Regions from separate parts of the Homo sapiens genome. Here region 1 is linked to region 2. Evidence: fine-mapped expression QTL. A gene starts in region 2. The other region holds a variant in brackets. All regions are shown on one strand. Distances are between the middles of the regions. Region 1 overlaps MAP1B (microtubule associated protein 1B). Region 2 holds the start of MRPS27 (mitochondrial ribosomal protein S27).

Evidence for each region. PIP is the estimated chance that this variant, and not a neighbour inherited with it, causes the effect. A credible set is the group of variants that fine-mapping cannot tell apart.
Region 1: its variant is the best candidate, but not a certain one, in a credible set for the expression of MRPS27 in whole blood (TOPMed, PIP 0.54).

The regions. Positions count from the first base shown.
Region 1 is chr5:72,186,882-72,198,956 of GRCh38, forward strand. It overlaps MAP1B (microtubule associated protein 1B), which reads left to right. Exons shown (of 7, transcript NM_005909.5): 5 at 6,985-12,075. Among named protein-coding and RNA genes, the nearest start is that of MIR4803, 23 kb to the left of the region's middle. RefSeq lists an enhancer at 8,013-8,102. The variant T/A (reference allele first, on the strand shown) is at 6,467.
Region 2 is chr5:72,314,156-72,326,230 of GRCh38, forward strand. It overlaps MRPS27 (mitochondrial ribosomal protein S27), which reads right to left and starts at 6,085. Exons shown (of 11, transcript NM_015084.3): 1 at 5,994-6,085; 2 at 1-3. The coding sequence starts at 6,066. PTCD2 (pentatricopeptide repeat domain 2) reads left to right here and starts at 6,218. Exons shown (of 10, transcript NM_024754.5): 1 at 6,218-6,354; 2 at 8,017-8,109. The coding sequence starts at 6,228. It also overlaps the pseudogene RN7SL153P. RefSeq lists enhancers at 5,136-5,677, 5,678-6,218, 5,817-6,146, 6,207-6,416.

The DNA.
Region 1 (12,075 bases), 130 kb before region 2:
TGCATGATCCAAAATACTTTATTTCTATGGCTCATTGCCAAAAGAATTTAGAGCACTCATTTACAATTAATTGGAATCATTCTTAATGTGCCTGAGATATAGATGGGAGGGGTTGGAACAGTCAACACTTTACAGATGGTAAAAATGATGGAGAAACTTGAAATGTCAGAGCCCAAAAGAAAACCTGCGTTTCCTGTTTTCTGAAATAATACTCCAAAGATATCTGGGGCTTTTGGCACCTCGTTTTCCAGGCCTAATTATTTCAGATTTCTTTTACTTTAATGCCTGGCCCCAGTGTTTGAACTTGGGCTGTTTGAACAGCCCACAAAAGAGAGAGGGCTTTACAAAAGGAGCCACGTAGGAAAATGGGGCACGTCTGTGACCCAAGAAAAAGATGGCTAAAGTAGCTGGACTGAAGCTGGATCATTCATATTTCTAATGCGTATCTTATTCAAAGATGACACATATAAAGTGTTGAAAACTGTGTGAAGTTAGTCGTATTTTGTAAAATGAGATCAAAGATTTTGATATGCTTATTTCTGCTTGGGAATTTATCCTGGCTGGGAAACTTTCCAAAGTAATGCACCTTGTTTATCTAGCTTACATGTTTATAGCAATTACAGAAACAATTCAGACCCATCCCCATAGCAGGTTGGGGCCTGCCTGTGGCCGATAGCAGATTTCTACATGGAGGGACTGAGGGATGTTCTGATAAGAAGAGTCCCCACATCTGTTTAAAACTGTCTTTCTGAGGTGGTGGCTTGTCTGTCTCATGTGTACTGTGAAGGGCCACGTGTCCTTCTGCACTTAATTTTCCTTGGCCCTGAGGTTCAGAGAAAGCTCTGTTTGTACTTTTCATCACTGGCAAGAACTGTAAGCACACTGCCCAACTTCATCTGAGTCACCTGGAGGCTTCTTTAAAAACACTGATCAGAAGGCATAATAATGTTCACTCTCCAGCCACTGGGGTGGGGAGAATGTAAAACTGTGAAAAGGAACATTTTTGAAGCCACAGCTGTCAGAAGGTGTGGCGTCATCTGCATCTTGAAACACATACCAGGATGGGATCCCCCAGGCAGGCAGCTCCTTTCTCAGAGGCTTCAGAGCTCACTCACAGTTGGTTCATCTTTACCACTTCAAAATGCAAGCTTTGGCTGTGTCTTCTTCCAAGGCCGCTAGAGTTCACGCATCTTGCCTCATTCATCTCGGTATCCATTGCACCTGCACATAGTAAAGGCCTAGTAAGCCGCTGTTCAATTGCATTGAAATTCCAAAGCTAGGGCTACAATTCTCACTCTGCCTACTGTCCTGAAGTTGTTGTTTGATCACTATAATGTCAGAATGTTTTGCAAGATTATGTCCCCATGTGCATGTTGTACCCGGAGGCAGGTGGGCATTTGTCTAGTAGCTCTGGGGTCACACACATTATTAGCATCTTGCCTCAGGGAAGAGAGAAAGCTGCAGAAGGCTGGAAGTGGCCCAATGACATGGTGAGCAGTTAAGTGGCCTGCTTATAGCTCATTTGCATGCACATGGGCACTTTCCACATTCCTGTGCAGTTCTGTAGTTATTTTCTAGTGGTTGGTTTCTACCCAAGTCATTGGTTTGTCTTTTTTGCCGAAAAACCAGACAAAGGAAATATGTAAAGAAAAGTGTCATTGCCAAGATTTTCAATAAGGAAGTAACACGATTTGGCATATTTGCATCTCAAATAATATCCCTCCTTCCCCTTCTTTAAATAAGGTTGTTATGAATATTGCTGCTTAATCATTTTTACTAGATTATGGAAGCAAAATTTTAGCACCATGGACTGTGCACGTGTCAGATTTTGCCACTAATTACAGAAAAAAAAATTTGCCCTAACTGAAGAACTCGAGTTCCGTGGAAGGGCAGATTCCCCAGGGTTTATACTTATTGGGGTAGGTTCTGGAGGACACATATTTTGATTATACTCAGGCAGGTATCATTATGGTCAGAGACCATGTCATATTCTCTTCTGCCACCCACAAAGAAAGGATGCCACAGCTAAAGTGAATTGAAAACCACTGGACTGGACCAGTGGTTATCAGCCTTTTGGAGCTAGGATTGCCCATTGTTGCCTTGGAAAAATGGTTGAGTAACTGAATAACAAACGGACCTTGAAGACCACTTGTTGTCCAGCTCTTTTCCTTTTATCCAGTCCTTGAAACATACTAGTTAACTCCAGGGAAACCAAAACCACAATTTGGGACAAACAAAAATGATACTTTTTAAAAAATATAAGAACAGCTAAAAATAAATGGACTGAAAAAATAGAACTATCAGTACACTTTGAGCTTCAGGTTTTGGAGTCTTAATCACTGGAGATCAATTAACAAAACCAGAACTAACAGACGGTACAATTGTCTGGCTAACCCCACTCCTCCCTGAAATCCAGGGATGGTGAAATCATCATCTCCTGGGGACATTTTTCAGTCTCTGTGTTGGAAAGTTTTTCCTTATTTGTCTCATTGTATCTTCAAGGAAGTGATGTGATCCCTTTCCCACCTACAGTGTCTTAGTTACCCTTCACCAACACTGCCGATTTTTTCCCTTTCAGATTAATCATCTTCAGTTTTACCCACAGTTCTTCATAACCCTGCTCACTGTCCTTCAAACTTGTTCCTCTGTCAAGAAAGGGAGGTGAAGGCCAGGTGCTATGGCCCATGCCTGTAATCCCAGTACTTTGGGAGGCCAGAGTGGGAGGATCACGTGCGGCTAGGAGTTCTAGGTTGCACTCAGTTATAATCTGCACTGCACTCCAACCTGGGCAACAGAGCAAGATTCTGTCTCTTAAAAAAAAAAAAACTATACTTAAAACATTAAAAAAATAAAATAAAAAGAAGAGGAGATGGGATGGGTATGGGGGGAATTCAGGAGTTTAGTCCTGGTCATGTTTTAGTGCCTTGAAATCAGACAGTTGGATTTATGAGAACAGAGCTCAGGGAACTCAGAGTCGGGCTGGAGATACTAATTTGAAATCCATTAGCATATTAGAGGTATTTGAAGCCCAGAAGACACATGATGTGACCTAGAGTGAGAAACATTTTAAGAAGAGAAAGGGCCCAGGTCCAGTGTTGACAGGTCATAAGGCCAAGAGGAAGGAGCCAGTAAGGGAGACTTGTTTCAGGTTTTTGCTTGTTGGTCTAATTTCTCTAAAATGTCATGACTCAAACTGGACACCCTATTCAGGAGTCATTTGACCAGGTTAGGATTGTGAGAGTTGATAATGTCTATAGTTTTCAATACCATCTTCTATTAAAGAAGTCTAAAAGTGACTTTTGACCATCACCATACACCATTAATGGTCAATGGGGAAGTCAATGGGGAAGAGATGCAGGCTTTGAGGGGCTCGACAATTTATATAATTTAAGGGCTCTTTTTTAAGAAAAATGAAACAATTATTAATATACAGTTAAGTACAGGGCCATGCCAATGAGGTACCTTGAAGTTTAAGCTTCTTTGGCTTCATGATAAATCCATTTGACTGTCAACTAAAATCCCTGAGTCTTTTCCATGGATATTATTGTTAAGCCACATCTCCCAATCCTGTAGTTTACCCTGCTGGTTTATTGAACCTTACATTTATCCCTTTAGAATGCCATCCTGTTAGAATTGACTTAGCCACCATCATCCCAATGTCAAGAGCTTTTATAAATACCTTAATTCTGCCATTCCACATTTTGCTGTGTCTCCCATTTTCATACCATGCACAAATATGATATGCATGCCTTCGCCATTTTTATCCAAGTGAATACAGGCCAGAAAATGAGACTTGAGGCAGCCCATCATAGACCTCCCTCCAGGTTGACATTAAGCAGCACTATTTATATGGCTGGCTGGAAATCCACCTAATTCTACTATCACACTGTTCAGGGGTCCTATTAAATGTCTGGCTAAAACCCAGAGATACACTGTCTACTGTATTTCCTCATCAGCCAAGCAAGTAACCTAATCAAAAAGGAAATGTAGTTCGTAGGCCATGGTTTAGAAATTCAAATCTTGTTTCATTAATCTCATCTGCAGTAAAACCATTTATTTCTTACATCTTCCTTCCTCTTCCAGTATGCCTGCATTTAATCAGAAAAAGTAATTAACAAAAAAGATTATCTTTGTCCCAAAGCATATTCCTCCTTGTTGCATCTGTCATCCAACTTTGTAAGAACCAGGGTAGCACTCAGTGTGGTTACATCTGAAGTACCCACTCCAGGAAGATAACATGTGTTGAACTGGCCAAGTTTGGCACACAGATCAACAAACATCTACTGAGCCTGATTATGTATTGAGGAAACAAAGATAACTAAGATACAAAGATACAGAAGATATATTTCCTGCTATCAGAAATGTTTAGAGTAGTGGGTTATAATAGTTACCATTTATCATGGTGATGATTTCCCAATTTGTTCAGAAGAAGCCTCAGTTTCCAAGTCTAAGAACTAGTCACAAGCTTCCTTGCCACTGCTAACATTGTTGGATCCTCCTTATGGTTCTCATCTATTCATTGAATAAGCTTGGTCAGGTGCTGCCGTGGGCTGGCCACTCTTAAGACCCTGTCTTTGCCCTTGAGGCACTCTCTACTGTGCTTGTTGGCCCACAGGTCTGGAAAGAGGCTGTGGGGGAAAACACGGGCTTCATTCTGTTGTGTAGTTCCAAGGATGTAGGAGTTGTTCTTCCTCCTCCTCCCTCTGCCCAATTCCATCTGTCTGTTTTATGACTGAGGGCTCTGTCCAGCCCTGTCTCTGCATTCTTGTCTCATCATTCAGAATGTGCTGCTGTTTCTTCAGAGGGACCAGATTTTCCTTCTCTGGAAAGAAACCTGTCAAAGCAATGCTGGCTTTCTTTTCTGCTTTGCCTTGTACATCACGGTTGTTCATTCACCAGTGTCTCTTGGCTATCTTTCATGACCTCTGACTTCTCAGAATTCTGTGCAATCTTGTTTTGTTTTGGGGTCATTTCCTGCATTTCATAGAAATTCTCTGGATAGAGGTGAAAAGACGGAAAGTAGGAAGATATTCCTTAAGTCTTTCTACCTTCTGCTTCAACCTGGTAATTACATACTTTACATAAAAAGAGCCAGTGATTGAATGCCCCCTACTCACAGCTGGATTATACCCTTGGCTGCCACACCTCTCAGCTAGGGTGGAATTTCAAAAATTAAAATGAACTAAACTTAATTTTTAAGTTTCACTATTAAAGATACAGCAGTTATTCTAGATTTGCCCCCTAAAACATATTATAAAACATGAATAGTTTGCATGTGCTTTGTGTGAAAATTGGGATCTAGAGACTTTTAATTGTGCTATAGTGATTGTGATGAGAGTCTCTGCTAACTATTGTACAAAAAACCATATTTGATGCCCTATGTTTGCTTTGGCCAGCAAATCATTTGAGCAAAGATGCCTGTCCCCTCTACCCAAAGATGGTATTACCATTTGCTTTTTCACTTTTCTTAGCTCCCAAAAACAGGAGTTGATTCTTATCCTTTTTACAGAAAATTGTGAAGTCACAGAAAAACAGCAAAGTTTTATTATTTTGTTATTTTGCGGCCCTTTACATAAAATGTTATGCTTAGGACTAATATGCTAACAAAACAAAAATGACTATTTTACTGCAATATTGCAGTCGAATATAGGAAAACTCAGATTCTATAAATTATTCTTACACACATTCATAATAGTAGCCTCAGAATGCTGATAGTCAGGAGATAGAGGAAACTAATCTAATACTAGAAGGTAAGAGTTCAGACCTGCTGGCTCAGGGATGCCTGGACCAAATGAAACCTTGGCTTTACCCCTTGATCATTTGTCATCCAGAATACAGAGCCCTTTTCAGTCGAAACTCTGAGCTGATTTGTGAGCTTTACTGAGACGGAAAGAATATTGGAGTTGATGGCATGATTCTCCATCACTAATTTGCTAGGCTAAGACCATGAAATATATGGCCATAATATGGAGTGAGAGAGACAAGTAGTGTTTTTATTAAACCACAATTTCTGTTTTGGTCCTGATTTGCTTTTCTATGTTTACATCCTTGGGAAGTACTAAACAATGTGTTGAAAAATGTTTCAGCCACATTTGATCTTAGCTGCTCACACCCAACTTGCCCTGAAAAGAATGGGAGCAGTAAGAGAACAGAGTGGCTCACTGTGGAGTTAAACATGAGCAAATGGGGAACGAACTTGGCCAAACCACTTTAATGTCATGGCTTTAATAAAAAAGTATTTGTATCTGCAGAGAATATGCTGGGTGACCCACTCATGTTTCAATCAGCGTGCACTGATGCCAGAAACCAGTAATTTTTTGTAGTAATAGGCAATCCGTAACTTCTTGTCTCCTATGGGGAAAAACCCACCAAGGTTTTTTCTTTTTTACATGCCAGATCCTGAAAGGAGGCCACAACAAGTGCCCTGTTAATCTGAATTTCTTTAAGGTATCCATCAGGCCTTTTT[T/A]TTTTTTTTTTTTGCCAAGTCTAGTGGAATAAAAGAAAATATTTTTTATTAGTGGTGAAATGACCCAGACAGCTTTCTCTTGTGATAGTTTAACGTTTTTTTTTAAAGGGCATCTTTGCCTTTATTCTAGGGGTAATATTCAAAGTGTTTCATAACCACTGCAGCACAATCCTCAGTTGCCCAGGTGGTCACTGGTGTTAGAACTGGAGCAGAGTACTGGCATTCCCCTGCTGGGCAGGAATAGATGGTGGAGGGGTTGTTGGGGAGGTGCCAGGGCGAGTGGGTACTGGTTGAGGTAGAAGCCAGTAGCAGCGGGGCTCAGGACAAAGGCTGTTCACCTTCCAGTAGGGAAGTATTTCAGCATTTAAGCAACCAACATCACTATGAGAGTGCATGTCTGAAACTGGTCCTATGTGCATCCTGTGATCCTGTAACACATAGTTATAGCTGGAGATGATGGATCAGTGATGATAATCACTTACACCTTTTCTTTCTTTCTTTCTTTCTTTAAAACCCAGATCGGGGAGTTACTAAGCACCACCCATCCTGCCAACAAAGCCAGCTTAACCCTGTTCTGTCCTGAAGAAGGGGACTGGAAGAACTCCAATCTTGACAGACACAATCTCCAAGACTTCATCAATATTAAACTCAATTCAGCTTCTATCTTGCCAGAAATGGAAGGACTTTCTGAGTTTACCGAGTATCTCTCAGAATCAGTGGAAGTCCCATCTCCCTTTGACATCTTGGAACCTCCCACATCGGGTGGATTTCTGAAGCTCTCCAAGCCCTGCTGTTATATTTTTCCAGGAGGGAGGGGCGATTCTGCCTTGTTTGCAGTGAATGGTTTCAATATGCTCATCAATGGCGGATCAGAGAGAAAATCCTGCTTCTGGAAGCTCATCCGACACTTAGACCGAGTGGACTCCATCCTGCTCACCCACATTGGGGATGACAATTTGCCTGGAATAAACAGCATGTTACAGCGGAAAATTGCAGAGCTCGAGGAAGAACAGTCCCAGGGCTCCACCACAAATAGTGACTGGATGAAAAACCTCATCTCCCCTGACTTAGGAGTTGTATTTCTCAATGTACCTGAAAATCTCAAAAATCCAGAGCCAAACATCAAGATGAAGAGAAGCATAGAAGAAGCCTGCTTCACTCTCCAGTACCTAAACAAATTGTCCATGAAACCAGAACCTCTGTTTAGAAGTGTAGGCAATACTATTGATCCTGTCATTCTTTTCCAAAAAATGGGAGTAGGTAAACTTGAGATGTATGTGCTTAATCCAGTCAAGAGCAGCAAGGAAATGCAGTATTTTATGCAGCAGTGGACTGGTACCAACAAAGACAAGGCTGAATTCATTCTGCCTAATGGTCAAGAAGTAGATCTCCCGATTTCCTACTTAACTTCAGTCTCATCTTTGATTGTGTGGCATCCAGCAAACCCTGCGGAGAAAATCATCCGAGTCCTGTTTCCTGGGAACAGCACCCAGTACAACATCCTGGAAGGGTTGGAAAAGCTCAAACATCTAGACTTTCTGAAGCAGCCACTGGCCACCCAAAAGGATCTCACTGGCCAGGTGCCCACTCCTGTGGTGAAACAAACAAAACTGAAACAGAGGGCTGATAGCCGAGAAAGTCTGAAGCCAGCCGCAAAACCACTTCCTAGCAAATCCGTGCGCAAGGAGTCAAAAGAAGAAACCCCTGAGGTCACAAAAGTGAATCACGTGGAAAAGCCACCCAAAGTTGAAAGCAAAGAAAAGGTAATGGTGAAAAAAGACAAGCCAATAAAAACAGAGACCAAACCTTCAGTGACTGAAAAGGAGGTTCCCAGCAAAGAAGAGCCATCTCCAGTGAAAGCCGAGGTGGCTGAGAAGCAAGCCACAGATGTCAAACCCAAAGCTGCCAAGGAGAAGACGGTGAAAAAGGAAACAAAGGTAAAGCCTGAAGACAAGAAAGAGGAGAAAGAAAAGCCAAAGAAAGAAGTGGCTAAAAAGGAGGACAAAACACCTATCAAGAAGGAGGAAAAACCAAAAAAGGAAGAGGTGAAAAAAGAAGTCAAAAAAGAGATCAAGAAAGAAGAGAAAAAAGAACCCAAGAAAGAGGTTAAGAAAGAAACACCGCCAAAGGAAGTCAAGAAGGAAGTTAAGAAGGAAGAGAAGAAGGAAGTGAAAAAGGAAGAAAAGGAACCCAAAAAAGAAATTAAGAAGCTCCCTAAAGACGCAAAGAAATCATCTACTCCTCTGTCTGAAGCAAAAAAACCAGCTGCTTTAAAACCAAAAGTACCCAAGAAGGAAGAGTCTGTCAAGAAAGATTCTGTTGCTGCCGGAAAGCCAAAGGAGAAGGGGAAAATAAAAGTCATTAAGAAGGAAGGCAAGGCCGCAGAGGCTGTCGCTGCAGCTGTCGGCACTGGAGCCACCACAGCAGCTGTCATGGCGGCAGCTGGAATAGCAGCCATTGGCCCTGCCAAAGAACTCGAAGCTGAGAGGTCCCTTATGTCATCTCCTGAGGATCTAACCAAGGACTTTGAAGAGTTAAAGGCTGAAGAGGTCGATGTAACAAAGGACATCAAGCCTCAGCTGGAGCTAATCGAAGACGAAGAGAAACTGAAGGAAACTGAGCCAGTCGAAGCCTACGTCATCCAGAAGGAGAGAGAAGTCACCAAAGGTCCTGCCGAGTCCCCTGATGAGGGAATCACTACCACTGAAGGGGAGGGCGAATGTGAACAGACACCTGAGGAGCTGGAGCCCGTCGAGAAGCAGGGAGTAGACGACATTGAAAAATTTGAAGATGAAGGAGCCGGTTTTGAAGAATCTTCAGAGACTGGAGACTATGAAGAGAAGGCAGAAACTGAGGAGGCTGAGGAGCCAGAAGAGGATGGGGAGGAACACGTATGTGTGAGCGCCTCCAAGCACAGCCCCACTGAGGATGAGGAAAGTGCCAAGGCGGAGGCTGATGCATACATCAGGGAGAAGAGGGAGTCTGTGGCCAGTGGGGATGACCGAGCCGAAGAAGACATGGATGAGGCCATTGAGAAAGGAGAGGCTGAACAATCTGAAGAGGAGGCTGATGAGGAGGACAAAGCTGAAGATGCCAGAGAGGAGGAATATGAGCCGGAAAAAATGGAAGCTGAAGACTATGTGATGGCTGTGGTCGACAAGGCTGCAGAGGCTGGTGGTGCCGAGGAGCAGTATGGATTCCTCACCACACCAACCAAGCAACTAGGAGCCCAGTCTCCTGGCCGAGAACCTGCATCTTCAATTCATGATGAGACTTTACCTGGAGGCTCAGAGAGCGAGGCCACCGCTTCTGATGAGGAGAATCGAGAAGACCAGCCTGAGGAATTCACTGCCACCTCTGGCTACACTCAGTCTACTATTGAGATATCCAGTGAGCCCACCCCCATGGATGAGATGTCTACCCCTCGAGACGTGATGAGTGATGAGACCAACAATGAAGAGACGGAGTCCCCTTCTCAGGAATTCGTAAATATCACCAAATATGAATCTTCATTGTATTCTCAGGAATACTCTAAACCTGCTGATGTTACACCGCTCAACGGATTTTCTGAAGGATCAAAAACAGATGCCACTGATGGCAAGGATTACAATGCTTCAGCCTCTACCATATCACCACCCTCTTCCATGGAGGAAGACAAATTCAGCAGATCTGCTTTACGTGATGCTTACTGCTCTGAAGTGAAAGCCAGCACCACTTTGGACATCAAAGATAGCATCTCAGCTGTTTCAAGTGAAAAGGTCAGCCCATCGAAGAGCCCGTCCCTGAGTCCATCTCCACCATCACCCTTAGAAAAGACCCCCCTGGGTGAACGTAGTGTGAACTTCTCTCTGACGCCCAATGAGATTAAAGTCTCTGCAGAGGCAGAAGTAGCCCCGGTGTCTCCTGAGGTGACCCAAGAAGTAGTTGAAGAACATTGTGCTAGTCCTGAGGACAAGACTCTGGAAGTGGTGTCACCATCTCAGTCCGTGACTGGCAGTGCTGGTCACACACCTTACTATCAATCTCCTACTGACGAGAAATCCAGTCATCTCCCTACAGAAGTCATTGAAAAACCACCAGCAGTTCCAGTGAGTTTTGAATTCAGTGATGCCAAAGATGAGAATGAAAGGGCTTCAGTAAGCCCCATGGATGAGCCCGTGCCTGACTCAGAGTCTCCTATTGAAAAAGTTTTGTCTCCTTTACGCAGCCCGCCCCTCATTGGATCCGAGTCTGCTTATGAAAGTTTTCTAAGTGCTGATGACAAGGCTTCTGGCAGAGGTGCCGAAAGTCCTTTTGAAGAAAAGAGTGGAAAACAAGGCTCTCCAGACCAAGTAAGTCCAGTTTCTGAAATGACTTCTACTAGTCTTTACCAAGACAAACAGGAAGGGAAAAGCACAGACTTTGCACCAATAAAAGAAGACTTTGGCCAAGAAAAGAAAACTGATGATGTTGAAGCCATGAGTTCTCAACCAGCACTGGCTCTGGATGAAAGGAAATTAGGAGATGTTTCTCCCACACAAATAGATGTCAGTCAGTTTGGATCTTTTAAAGAAGACACTAAGATGTCCATTTCTGAAGGTACTGTCTCAGACAAGTCAGCTACTCCTGTTGATGAGGGCGTAGCAGAAGACACGTACTCTCATATGGAGGGTGTGGCCTCAGTGTCCACAGCCTCAGTGGCTACGAGCTCATTTCCAGAGCCAACAACAGATGATGTGTCTCCATCTCTGCATGCTGAGGTTGGCTCCCCACATTCCACAGAAGTAGATGACTCCCTTTCAGTGTCTGTTGTGCAAACACCTACCACATTCCAGGAAACAGAAATGTCTCCATCTAAAGAAGAATGCCCAAGACCGATGTCAATTTCTCCACCAGATTTCTCCCCTAAAACTGCAAAGTCCAGGACACCCGTTCAAGATCACAGATCTGAACAGTCCTCAATGTCTATTGAATTTGGCCAAGAATCTCCTGAGCAATCCCTTGCTATGGACTTCAGTCGACAGTCTCCAGATCACCCTACAGTGGGTGCAGGCGTGCTTCACATCACTGAAAATGGGCCAACTGAAGTGGACTACAGTCCTTCTGACATGCAGGACTCCAGTTTATCACATAAGATACCACCTATGGAGGAGCCGTCCTACACCCAAGATAATGATCTTTCTGAGCTCATCTCAGTATCTCAGGTAGAGGCCTCCCCGTCCACCTCTTCTGCTCATACCCCTTCTCAGATCGCTTCTCCTCTCCAAGAAGATACTCTATCCGATGTTGCTCCTCCCAGAGATATGTCCTTATATGCCTCACTCACCTCTGAAAAAGTGCAAAGTCTGGAAGGAGAGAAGCTCTCTCCAAAATCTGATATCTCTCCACTCACCCCACGAGAGTCCTCTCCTTTATATTCACCTACTTTTTCAGATTCTACCTCTGCAGTCAAAGAGAAAACAGCAACTTGCCACAGTTCCTCTTCTCCACCAATAGATGCAGCATCCGCAGAGCCCTATGGCTTCCGTGCCTCAGTGTTATTCGATACAATGCAACACCATCTAGCCTTGAATAGAGATTTGTCCACACCTGGCCTGGAGAAGGACAGTGGAGGGAAGACACCTGGTGAC
Region 2 (12,075 bases):
TACCTGAGAAAATAGGCAATTATTTCAACACACATGGTTTTACAAGAGGTTCATTTTATATGTTTTATTAAATATATCTTCACTATCCTTTCAACTACTAGATTATATATTTTAAATAATCTAATACAGTACAGCAACCAATATCGCATAGTTGACAATTCAGTGAAGAACAAAATGCATTCAACCCCTAACAAGTGAAGATGCAGAAAAACAGGATTTTCACAATAATTTTTTAAATAAAATAAACAGGGTCTTGCTATAATGCCCAGGCTGGAATGCAGTAGCTATTCACAGGCACAATCCCACTACTGATCGGCACAGGAATTTTGATGTGCTCAGTTTCCAACCTGGTTCACCCTTCCTGAAGCAACCTGGTAGTTCCCTGCTCCTGGAACGTCAATCATCCTATCGATGCCAAACTTAGTGTGGACACTTGATCGGTATTGTGCACTACAGCCCAGAACTCCTGGGTGATCCTCCTGCCTCAGCCTCCCAAGTAGTTAGCATTACAGACACATACCACTGCGCTATGCCCATAATTTTATGGATAAAACTGCTAATTTTGTTCCTATAACTTTAAGACTAGGAGCCACTTGTTGCTAGTAAATTATAATCCAGGCAAGCCCTAGAACACCTTCTTAGAACCAAAAACACCTGCTGACTGTTGCTTAACTCATTAATTAAATGCTTTATAATTATTATGCCTAAAAAACATTTTCATCTTAGATCCACAGGTTTCAATCATTTCACATAAAGCAAGGAGTAGTATCTTACCCAATGAGCCAGCACCCTAGTGGTAAATTAAAGAAACTCACAAAGCCAAAGCTGAGGTAACGTACAAGATAGCATACCACTATTCCTAGCTCCTGGCACAATGCCTAGCCTTTGGCAGTGTTTAACAAACATGAGCTCAAGGAGTGAATGAGAAAGAATGAATGGCAAGTTCATCAAAATTTAAAACTTTTGTGCTTTGAAGTACAATCTCAGGAAAGTGAAAGTACAACCCAAAGAACAGGAGAAAATATTTGCAAAACATTTATCTAGTACAAGACTTGTATCCAAAATATTTCAATAAATCTTACAACTCAAAAATAAAAAAAAAGACAACCCAAATGAATGATGGGTAAAGGATTTAAACAGGTATACCTTTAAAAACATATATACACTGAGGTGGGTGGATCACTTAAGCTCAGGAGTTCAAGACCAGCCTGGGAAACATGGTGAAACCCCGTTTCTACAAAAAACACAAAAATTAGCCAGCCATGGTGGCATGCACCTGTAGTCCCAACTACTCAGGAGGCTGAGGTGGGAGAATCGACTGAGCCCGGGAGGCAGAGGTTGCAGTAAGTCAAGATCATGCCACTGCACTCCAGCCTGGGCAACAGAGTGAGACTCTGTTTCGAAAAAAAAAAAAAAAGAAAAAGTAAAATATATATGTATACACACACAAATAGCTAATAATCATAAGGACAGATGCTTAACATAATTTGCCATTAGAGAAATGCAAAACAAAATCACCTGGAGAAACGAATGATACTCACTACAATGACCACCATCAAAAAACAGATAATGACAACTGCTGGGGAGGATGCAGAGAAACCAGAAACTCATACCTTACTGGAGAGAACATAAAACAGTGCAGCTGCTTTTTAAAGAATTTGGTAGCTCCTCAAAATGTTAACATGGAGTTACTCTATCACCCAGCAATTCCACTCCTAGGTTTACAACCAAGAAAAATGAAAACTTGTGTCCACAGAAAATTTGTAAACAAATGTTCACAGTAGTATTATTCATAACGGACAAAAAGTGGAAACAACCCAAATATCCATCAATTGATGAATAAACAAAATGTGGTCTATCCTTACAATGGAATAGTATTTGGCAATAAAAAATGAAGTACTGATACATACTACATGGGTGAATCCTGAAAACATGTTAAGTAAAAAAGACGCCAGTCACAAAAGACCACATATTATATGATTCCATTATATGAGCAATCCAGAATAGGCAAGTCTGTAGAGACAGAAAGTAGATTCATGGTTGCTAAGGGCTAAAGGTGAGGATCAGGAAAGCTAGAGGAGAAATGGGGAGCAATTGCAAATGGGCATGGAATTTCTTTTTGGGATAATGAAAATGTCCTAAAATAGCTTGTGATGATGGCTCCAGAACTCTGTGTTTATACTAAAACCTTTGAATTGTATACTGCATTTGTTGTTTCTTTGTTTGTTTTTGAGATGGAGTTTTGCTCGTTGCCCAGGCTGGAGTGCAATGGTGTGATCTTGGCTCACTGCAATTTCCACCTCCCAGGTTCAGGTAATTCTCCTGCCTCAGCCTCCAGAGTAGCTGGGATTACAGGCGCCTGCCACCATGCTTGGATAATTTTTTGTATTTTTAGTAGAGACGGGGTTTCACCATAATAGCCAGGCTGGTCTCGAACTCCTACCTTAGGAGATCCCCCAGCCTTGGCCTCCCAAAGTGCTGGGATTACAGGCGTGAGCCACCATGCCTGGCCTGAATTGTGTATTTTAAATGGATGAATTGTATGGCATGTGAATTATACCTCAATAACTCTGTTTAAAAAAATAGAAAAACAGCCAGGTGCAGTGGCTCATGCCTGTAATCCCAGCACTTTGGGAGGCCGAGGTGGGCGGATCACCTGAGGTCGGGAGTTCGAGGCGAGCCTGACCAACATGGAGAAACCTTGCCTCTACTAAAAATACAAAATTAGCCAGGCGTGGTGGTGCATGCCTGTAATCCCAGGTACTTGGGAGGCTGAGGCAAGAGAATCCCTTGAAGCCAGGAGGTGGAGGTTGTGGTGAGCCGAGATCACGCCATTGCATTCCAACCTGGGCAATAAGAGCGAAACTCCGTCTCAAAAAAAAAAAAAAACAAACAGAAAAAATGACAGATAATTATGCTGAGGTCACAGCAGACCAAAAGCCCAACACAACTAGATAGCATGGGGGCTGATTAAACACAGTATTGGAATGCTGTTTTTATTCTCTACCTACTTTCCAGCTCAAACAAATAAACAAATACAAACACATCTGTGTGAATTTATACACAGTTCATTCTCTTACTGTGAACACAGATCTTTACTAGAATAATATATCTAAATTTGAGTTCTACAAATTAAATAATGAGGCAACAATAAGGTTTCCAAAGACGCTTTCAAAAGGAGAACTAAGAAAAGACTATAATTATTTAAATTAATTTCCATTTATTTTTTCGTTTTGGAAATGGAGTTTCGCTCTTGTTGCCCAGGCTGGAGTGCAATGGCATGATCTCAGCTCACTGCAACCGGAAGGCGGAGGCCTTCCAGGTTCAAGCGATTCTCCTGCCTCAGCCTCCTGAGTAGCTGGGATTTCAGGCATGCGCCACCACGCCTAATTTTGTATTTTTAATAGAGACAGGGTTTCTCCATGTTGGCCAGGCTGGTCTCAAACTCCTGACCTCAGGTGATCCACCCACCTCAGCCTCCCAAAGTGCTGGGATTACAGGTGTGAGCCACCACACCCGGCCTAATTTTATTTATTATTATTATTTTTTTGAGATGGAGTATCTCTCTGTTGCCCAGGCTGGAGTGTAGTGGCATGATCTTGGCTCACTGCAACCTTTGCCTCCAGGGTTCAAGCAATTCTCCTGCCCCAGGGGGATGGTTCTAGAATACCCCCTCAAATACCAAAATCTGAGAATGCAGAAGTCTCTTACATAAAATTGCACAGTATTTGCAAATAACCCACAAACATCCTCCTGCATTACTTTAAGCTGGGGTGTCCATTTTTTTGGCTTCCCTGGTCACATTGGAAGAAGAACAATTGTCTTGGGCCACACATACATAAACTACACTAACACTAATGATAGCTGATGGGCAAACAAACAAAACAAAAAATGCTAAAAATCTCCTAATATTTTAGTTAAGTTTACAAATTTGTGTTGGGCCACATTCAAAACTGTCCTGGGCTGAGGGTTGGACAAGCTGCTTTAAGTCATTTGTAGATTACTTATAATACCTAACACAATGTAAACGCAATGTAAGTGGTTGTCATGTTGTATTTTCTTTGTATTATTTTACTGTTGTATTATTTTTTATTGTTAGTTTTTGTTTTGTTTTGTAGTATTTTGATCCGCTGTTGGTTGACTCTGCAGATGCAGAATGCTCGGATAAGGAAGCCAACTGTACTCCCGCATACCAGCTACTTGCTTACTCTCTATTTATTATCTGTTATTCTCTATGCCTTCATTCTAGCATATGCTTCATTCTAGCATAAGTAATCACCTTTCTACATTCTGGAGTCAGGACAATATCTAGATCATTGCTCAAGAGTTCTGAACTGGGAGATTAAAAAGCTGGGCCAGCTGGGCACAGTGGCTCACGCCCGTAATCCCAGCACCTTGGGAAGTAGAGGCGGGTGGATCACCTGAGGTCAGGAGTTAGAGACCAGCCTGACCAACATGGAGAAACCCCGTCTCTACTGAAAATACAAAATTAGCCGGGAGTGGTGGCGCATGCCTGTAATCTCAGCTACTCGGGAGGCTGAGGCAGGAGAATCACTTGAACCCGGGAGGCAGAGGCTGCAGTAAGCCGAGATCGTGCCATTGCACTCTAACCTGGGCAACAAGAACGAAACCCGAAAAAAAAAAAAAAGGCTGGGGAGGTGATTGTGGGGAAAGACAGGTCTCCCAAAATGCCCTCTGTGTGTAGTTGTTCACGGAAACCACATAAACAGAAAATAGCTACAACAGCTAATTCTTACTAAGGTGTCAAGCGTTGTGCATAACACTGCCTAATGTGTGACATTAAACGTTTTCACCAGGTCAGCCACTTAATCTTCAGAAAACTGGTGGCCAACTCTGAGGTTTCACATTGACGTTTAATGGCTGTTCCTAAAGAAGTGCGTGCTTTTTAAAAAAATAGAGGATGGGAGGTAGGTTGGAAAGGGAAGATAAGCGGCAATGGAAAAATCGAGTGTGATTATTGCATTTTTATCAAATATGTCTGTCTGGATTATGTGGTTAGAATCACTGCAAATTTGGCTTCTATAAATACTTTAAAACTTTTTTCCAATGTTTTCATTATCAGATCCACTATGCAGGCTTTGAGTGGGCTGCCATTTAGTTCAGATATCAAAGTATTTTACAAGTAACTAATAGCATTTATTATCTACACGTGGAAAACTATAGCAAAGAAAGGTCAATCAAAAGTTGTGCTCTAGGTCATCAGATAAAATGAGATTAATACTGAAAAATTCTTCCACGAAGACCAGGGGTCCAGCTAAATGTGTGGTGGTGGGAAAAATGTTTATCTGACGTCCCTCTAAAGAAACCTCAGATGGGAGAAAAATGTCCCAGCCCCAGGAATGGACACATTTAGGTTTTTCCTTTTTTTTTTTTTTTTTTTTTTTTGAGACAGGGTCTCGCTCTGTTGCCCAGGCTGGAGTGTAGTGGCGCGATCTCTGCTCACTGCAACCTCCGCCTCCCGAGTTCAAGCGATTATCCTGCCTCAGCCCCCCGAGTAGCTGGGATTACAGGCGCGCGCCACCAGGCCCAGATAATTTCTTTGTATTTTTTAGTAGAGATGGGGTTTCGCCCTGTTGGCCAGGCTGGTCTCGAACTCCTGGCGATCCGCCCGCCTCGCGTTCCCAAAGTGCTGGGACCACAGGCGTGGGCCACCGCGCCCGGCGCACATTTGGGTTTTTCGTGGTCAGCAAAAGCACGACCACCCCAACACATAAATCTGGCGAATCATACGCAAATTCCCTCATGCTATATAACCTTCCACTGCTCTTCGTACCTTTGGACAGGAACATACTGTTATTTTAGGGAAGGAAATGGATCAGATACCTTGTCTCCTTCTTCTGCACTACCAAACACCCCAAATGGCGTCCCTAGCAATCAGATTCCAGAAACGTTTCCTCTCCTCTTGAAAGCCCACCGCTCCCTTCACCCAAAAAACAGAATAATCAGGGGCCTAATGAAGCTGTCCGGCCAACCTGCAGGAGAGAGCTGAGGAAGAACCACTTGCCGCGCCAGGAGCATCCCGCGCCGCACTATGGAGGCAGCCATCTTGGAGCGTACCAAAAGGAACAGCCAACGGGTTACGGACAGAGGAAGGGGCGGGGTTACAGCTCGACCTCTCGGGGCGCCCAGAATTGGACGAATCCCTTTTGTCGCTCTCGACGACAGGACCGACGCTCCGCCTCCTCGCCCCGGTTCCAGTAGTTGGTATGGTCCGAGACAGTATGGCTGCTGCATTTCGGCCCTCGAATCGAGTTCTCCTGCAGGCGCTGCAGATTTTGGTGTATCCTGGGGTGGGAGGCTCCGGCTCTGTCAGCTGCCGCTGCCCTCTCGGAGGTATCCGCGGCTTTAGCCTAGGGAAGGAGGGGAGGGATGGGAGAGAAGGGAGTGTTAGATCCCAGCTAGCATCTCTGTGGAGCAGCCACAGCTCCTAAGTCACTCACTGGCCTGGAGCGCACCCTCGCCCTCTAGTTGCACGTGGGTGCAGTGGTGACCACTGGGGGTCGTGGATACCCCCAGTGCCTGCAAATCGAAGGACTGCTGGGGTATTGACCTTGGGGCTGTAGTGCTCCCTCAGATGGGGCGACGTTCGTCTTCAGGAACATCCCTCCCGCCTTGGGTGACTTTTATTTATTTATTTATTTATTTTTGAGACGAAGTCTTGCTCTGTCGCCCAAGCTGGAGTGCGGTGGCGCGATCTCGGCTCACTGCAGCCTCCGCCTCCCGGGTTCAAGCGATTCTCCTGCCTCAGCTTTCCGAGTAGTTGGGACTACAGGCGTGCGCCACCACGCCCGGGTAATTTTTTGTATTTTTAGTAGAGACGGGTTTCACTATGTTGGCCAGGCTGGTTTCGAACTCCTGACCTCGTGGTCCACCCGCCTCGGCCTCCCAAAGTGCTGGGATTATAGGAGTGAGCCACCGCGCCCGGCCTTTTTCTTTTCTGCAGAGTTTGGAAGCAGAGGTCTTATGGAGTCTCAGTTCTGCTAACAATCTAAAAGACTTAACGGCACGTTTCTTCATTTTTCAAAACTATCCTCTAACATCTCTATGAAGAGAGTTAAATCTGAAGATGCTAGTGAGTGATAGTAAAAATGTTTGTCAGGCATTACTTTAATGTAGTTTACATACATTAATTCCTTTTCTCTAGACAACACCCAGCAAGAGAAGTACCATTCTTTTCTCCATTTACAGAGGAGGAACAAGGTTAAGTAATTTGCCCAAAGTCAGAGGGAACTGTTAGAGGTGGGATTTGAACACACCCAACAATAGAAACCTGCTCCTAACCACTTCACTGGACTGCCTTTCTGTAAATAAATAGCAACTTTTATTGTTACCTTGTTACTGCAGCTCACAGAACTCTGTTAGTGCGTGATTCTTCGGCCACGCTTGGTCCGTTTTATCTCATGCACAGCCAAGGATCCTAAAGAAAGGATGATGTTTCCCAAATCTACTAAGCTGTGATCAATGATTTCCATGTATCTCAAATGTATTTTGAGTCCACATCTGAGAGGCCTTAACCCCCTCATTTCACAGAGGACAAAACTGGGAGTTCCAGTGGTCATGCTGCAGCTTTTTCCACTACACTGTGCTTCTCCCTGGATAAACCAAAACTAAATATGCCTGTTTTGCATTTAAATGTTATTAGTTTTTTTTTTAAATGCCCTTGATACCCTTAACCGATGGCAAATGCCCATTTGTACTTCAAATCCCAACTTCCTGTCAACCAGTCCCCACACAGGTTTATCACTAGCTACGGTTAATCACTAGCTTCTTTCACACACACAAATAAAACCTGTTTTGCTGAGGATTTGCATTCTCTGGTAGTTCAGAAATTGTTTTTCCCAGGATTTATATTTGTACAGTTTGTACAGTTATATTTGTACCTGTCTAATGGATTATCTATAATAGATGTTAGAGGTAATCCAGCTCTATTCATGTTATTTGCTAACTTCTAAAACAGTCAAAATGACTTTACTTTTTTCTTTCTCTGATTTTTAGCTAAAAGATACCTACTTACAGATAATGTGGTGAAATTAAAAGAATTTCAACAAAAGAAAGTGGCTGTTGCATGTAATCTTTCTGGCACTAAAGGTAATAGAATCTATTTTGTTAATTCTGTCATTTATCTGTCATTTAAGTTTCTCTGTCTTTATCCCTATTCAGTGTCTCCTTCAGTGACTTTATTATGCCTTAGAAAAAGTTGAGACCATTTATTGTTAGTTTCATAGTGAACTCTTATATTTATCTTGCATTTCATACTTTGCTGCTACAACGTCTACAGCTCTCCTCTTATTCCTTCTCTTACGATCCCAGAGAAGTATTAAAGCTAGTGCTGCGATTGGTCTTGTCTAAATCTGTGCCATTAAAAGTGAGGTTTGAGGACCAGCGGCATCAGCATCTATTGGGTGGTTGATAGAAGTGCAGAGAGAAAGGCCCCAGATCATTCATATGCACAATAAAGTTTAAAAACTTCAGATGATTGGCTTTCAAACTTTTTGATGTAACCTTCAGTGAAAAATGCATTTTATGTTGCATCTCAGTACACACAAACATATCTATATATAAATGAAATCAAATGAAACAAAACAGTACTATGTGTGATGATACATTTGGTATTTTTCACTCTGTGCTAGAAAAGTCAGTAGGATCAAAAATTTCTTAAAAAACAAGAGAAACCTGACTACCAAACCTAGGATTTGGCTGGGCATGATGGCTCATGCCTGTAACTCCAGCACTTTGGGAGGCCAAGGCAGGAGGATTGCTTGAGCCAGGGAGTTTGAGATCAGCCTGAGCAGCGTAGACCTCATCTCTACAAATTTTTTTAAAGTTAGTTGGGCGTGGTGGTGCATGCCTGTAGTCACAGCTACTCCAGGGACTGAGGTGGGAGGATTGCTTGAGCCTGGGAGGTCTAAGGTGCAGTAAGCCATGATCACACCACTGCACTCCAACCTGTGTAACAGAGTGAGACCCTGTCTCAAAAAAAAGATAAATCTGGGATTTGCTTTGAAAAAAAATCCAGTGTGTTTGAGGATTGTAGTGTAGAGGAAACATAATTAGCAAAATATTGATAATGATTGAGGCTGGGTAATGGCACTTAGTGAGGGGGATTATTATCCTGTTCTTTCATTTCTTGGGTATGTTTGAAAATTTTTGTTATAAAAAGCTACAAACAAGAACACCACCCTAGGTCTTTTTCCCTTTCAGCACCTGAAAAATCTTGTGCATTCATTCTCTCCCTCCTGCACATAGAGTTCTTCCCAGCATTTCATACCTTTTATTGTGTGTGGATGCAGCAGTGGTCCCTGGGGGTTGTGGATATACCTCCTTGATCCTCCTTTATGAACACATCTAAGACTTTCCTTTTTTTTTTAATAACTCTTGGTGTCCCTACTGACTTTTTCAACCATAGACCCAGCTCTCCTTCCTCTCACTGCCAGATGTTTGTGAGCTCCTGATTAACACATTAACATTCTCTTTGTTTTGGTTTGTTTTTTAAGAGACAGTCTCGCTCTGTCACCTAGGCTGGAGTGCAGTTGGCACCATCATAGCTCGCTGCAGCCTCAAACTCTTGGATTCAAGCAATCCTGCTTTAGCCTCCTGAGTAACTAGGACTACAGTGCCACCATACCGCCTAATTTTTAATTTTTAATTTTTTTTTGTAGAGATGGTCTCACTGTGTTGAGGCTGGTCTCGAACTCCCAGGCTCAAGCTAGTATCCCGCCTCAGTCTCCTAAAGTACAAGCGTGAGCCACTGCACCCATCCTGATACTTTCTGCCTCCATTCCCTCACAATTCAGTCCTCCAGAAATCAATGTTCTCTCGCTGCTCCGCTAATCATACTGTTATATAATACCATATAGGGGGCAAAAAAATAAACCTTTGGAATGGGGGGAATATATTTATCCCCAGTTGAGTAGGCTCAATCTAGATTTCACTTCAGTCTTTTCTTTCTACCCAGGTATTTTAGATCTATGTGAGGTTTGCAGTTAGGGCTTCATGTCATCCAGTTGTGATTTCCAGTTGTCATAGTCTTCATAAGTCTGTGGCAGTTGTGTACATGTTCTGAAAGGCAATTAATATAATCAGTGCCAATCTGCTCTATTGTCAGACTGATATGTTTAAAGTCCTGTCAACCTTTCATCATTTTGAGAGCCCACAGTGGTACTCTGTTGTATACCACACTATTAACATACTCATCTCTCTGGCATCCTGGCTCTCCCGTGATGGACTCCGCCCTTTCTAGGACGGTTTCTGGTTGATCTAGTCACAGCTTTTCCCTCCACACCTGTCATTCCCAGTTCTGTTCTGTTGCTCATGCTGATTTCCTTACCTAGAATATCCCCCTCCTCCATTTCTCCAACCTGATTTCAGCCCTTTCCTTTCTCACTGGTACCCCTCCACTTTCACCAACCTGGTCTGTTCTGAGTCATAATAGTAAAGGTTGTAACAGGACTCTTCTGTCCACTCTGAGTTGTAATAGGTGTCGTAACAGGACAGAAGAGTCTTATTATGTTTATAGTATTCATGTGTCACCTCCTCCATCATTGTTTTCAGGTAGCTTTGTATAAATTTAGCTTGCCCTCCCCAAAATGCTTTTAAGTTCTTTGAGGGCAGGAACTATTCCTTACGCTTCTTGGTGTCTCACACACAAAGAAGGATACTTCCGAGTATGATTATATGATAAACAAATGTTGATTGATTTGTTTTAAAACACAAGTTATATCTGTTGAAATACTGGATTCTTAAGGTGTTGTTTTTTTTTTTTCTGAGACAGAGTCTTGCTCTGTCACCTAGGCTGGAGTACAGTGGCATGATCTCGGCTCATTGCAACCTCTGCCTCCCAGGTTCAAGCAATTCTTGTGCCTCAGCCTCCCTAGTAGCTGGGATTACAGGCGTGCACCACCACACCTGGCTACTTTTTGTATTTTTGGTAGAGACGGGGTTTCACCATGGTGGCGAGGCTGGTTTCAAACTACTGACCTCAAGTGATCCACCCACCTTGGCCTCCCAAAGTGCTGGGATTACAGGCCTGAGCCACTGCACCCGGCCTCTTAAGGTTTATTAAGGAGGATTAAGGAGTACAAGATGTAACGTCATCTCTTTGATGACTTGAGACTTTTTAGACTGGAAGTTGCTTAGAAATATTTAATAGACTAAATCCTCTTAGATCTAACAGGTGACACAAGGAATGAAAATGAGAACAATAATGTTTCTATTTACTGGCAGTTACCGAATGACAAATGCTTTACATATATCATCTCAGGTAACCCTGTGAGGAAGGTACCACGATCCTTAATTTACACATGAGGAATCAAGTCTCAGAGCAAGGGTCTCCATCAGAATGCAAGTGGCCGAGCTTAGATTTCAGCCCAGGTCCTTCCATCTCTAGAGCCTTTAACTGTTACATGGTTCTGCAAATAAAAATTGGAAGAGCCACTGCATTATCTCAAACCTAGTAGGTCTTTTCTTTTAAATTGAGAACAGTGCCTCTGCTTCTAGTTCTTGTGTTTTAGATGTATTTGTGCCTCTCCTTTCAGCAGCATTCCTTCAAAGCTCTGGGTTCTTGGAACAAATCCTATAGCTATTTCCTGGCAGCTTCTGATACTGACAACAGTTCTGCCTTCTGGAAAGCAGATGCTTGGTTGGTGCCTGCTTTGCTTTTCACCCCGCATTTTGGTGGGAATAAAGCCCCTTATTGATGACAAGAAGAGGTGCCTCCTTTTGGTTTTTGTCCCCACGGTTGATCAGATACAAAGACAAGGGAGAATGATAGACTGTGATGACACTGAAATGATTCTGTCACTGAAAAACTGTTTGCTGCTGTTTGGAGGACTGTTTTCCCCCCTGCCCATTACATAGTACTTTGGCATGCCTTCTAACAGCTGAGTAAAAAGAGACCAAGAGGAATGAAAAAGAGGTGAAGTTGAATCAAATGAAAGAAACGTGAGTCATGTGGGTCCACCATTGTGGACAAACCTACCTTCAACTCACATTTTCTTTTTAGTTTTCCCATTTGGTTCTCTGCCAGTTGACGGTTTGGGTGTCTGGCTACATTTT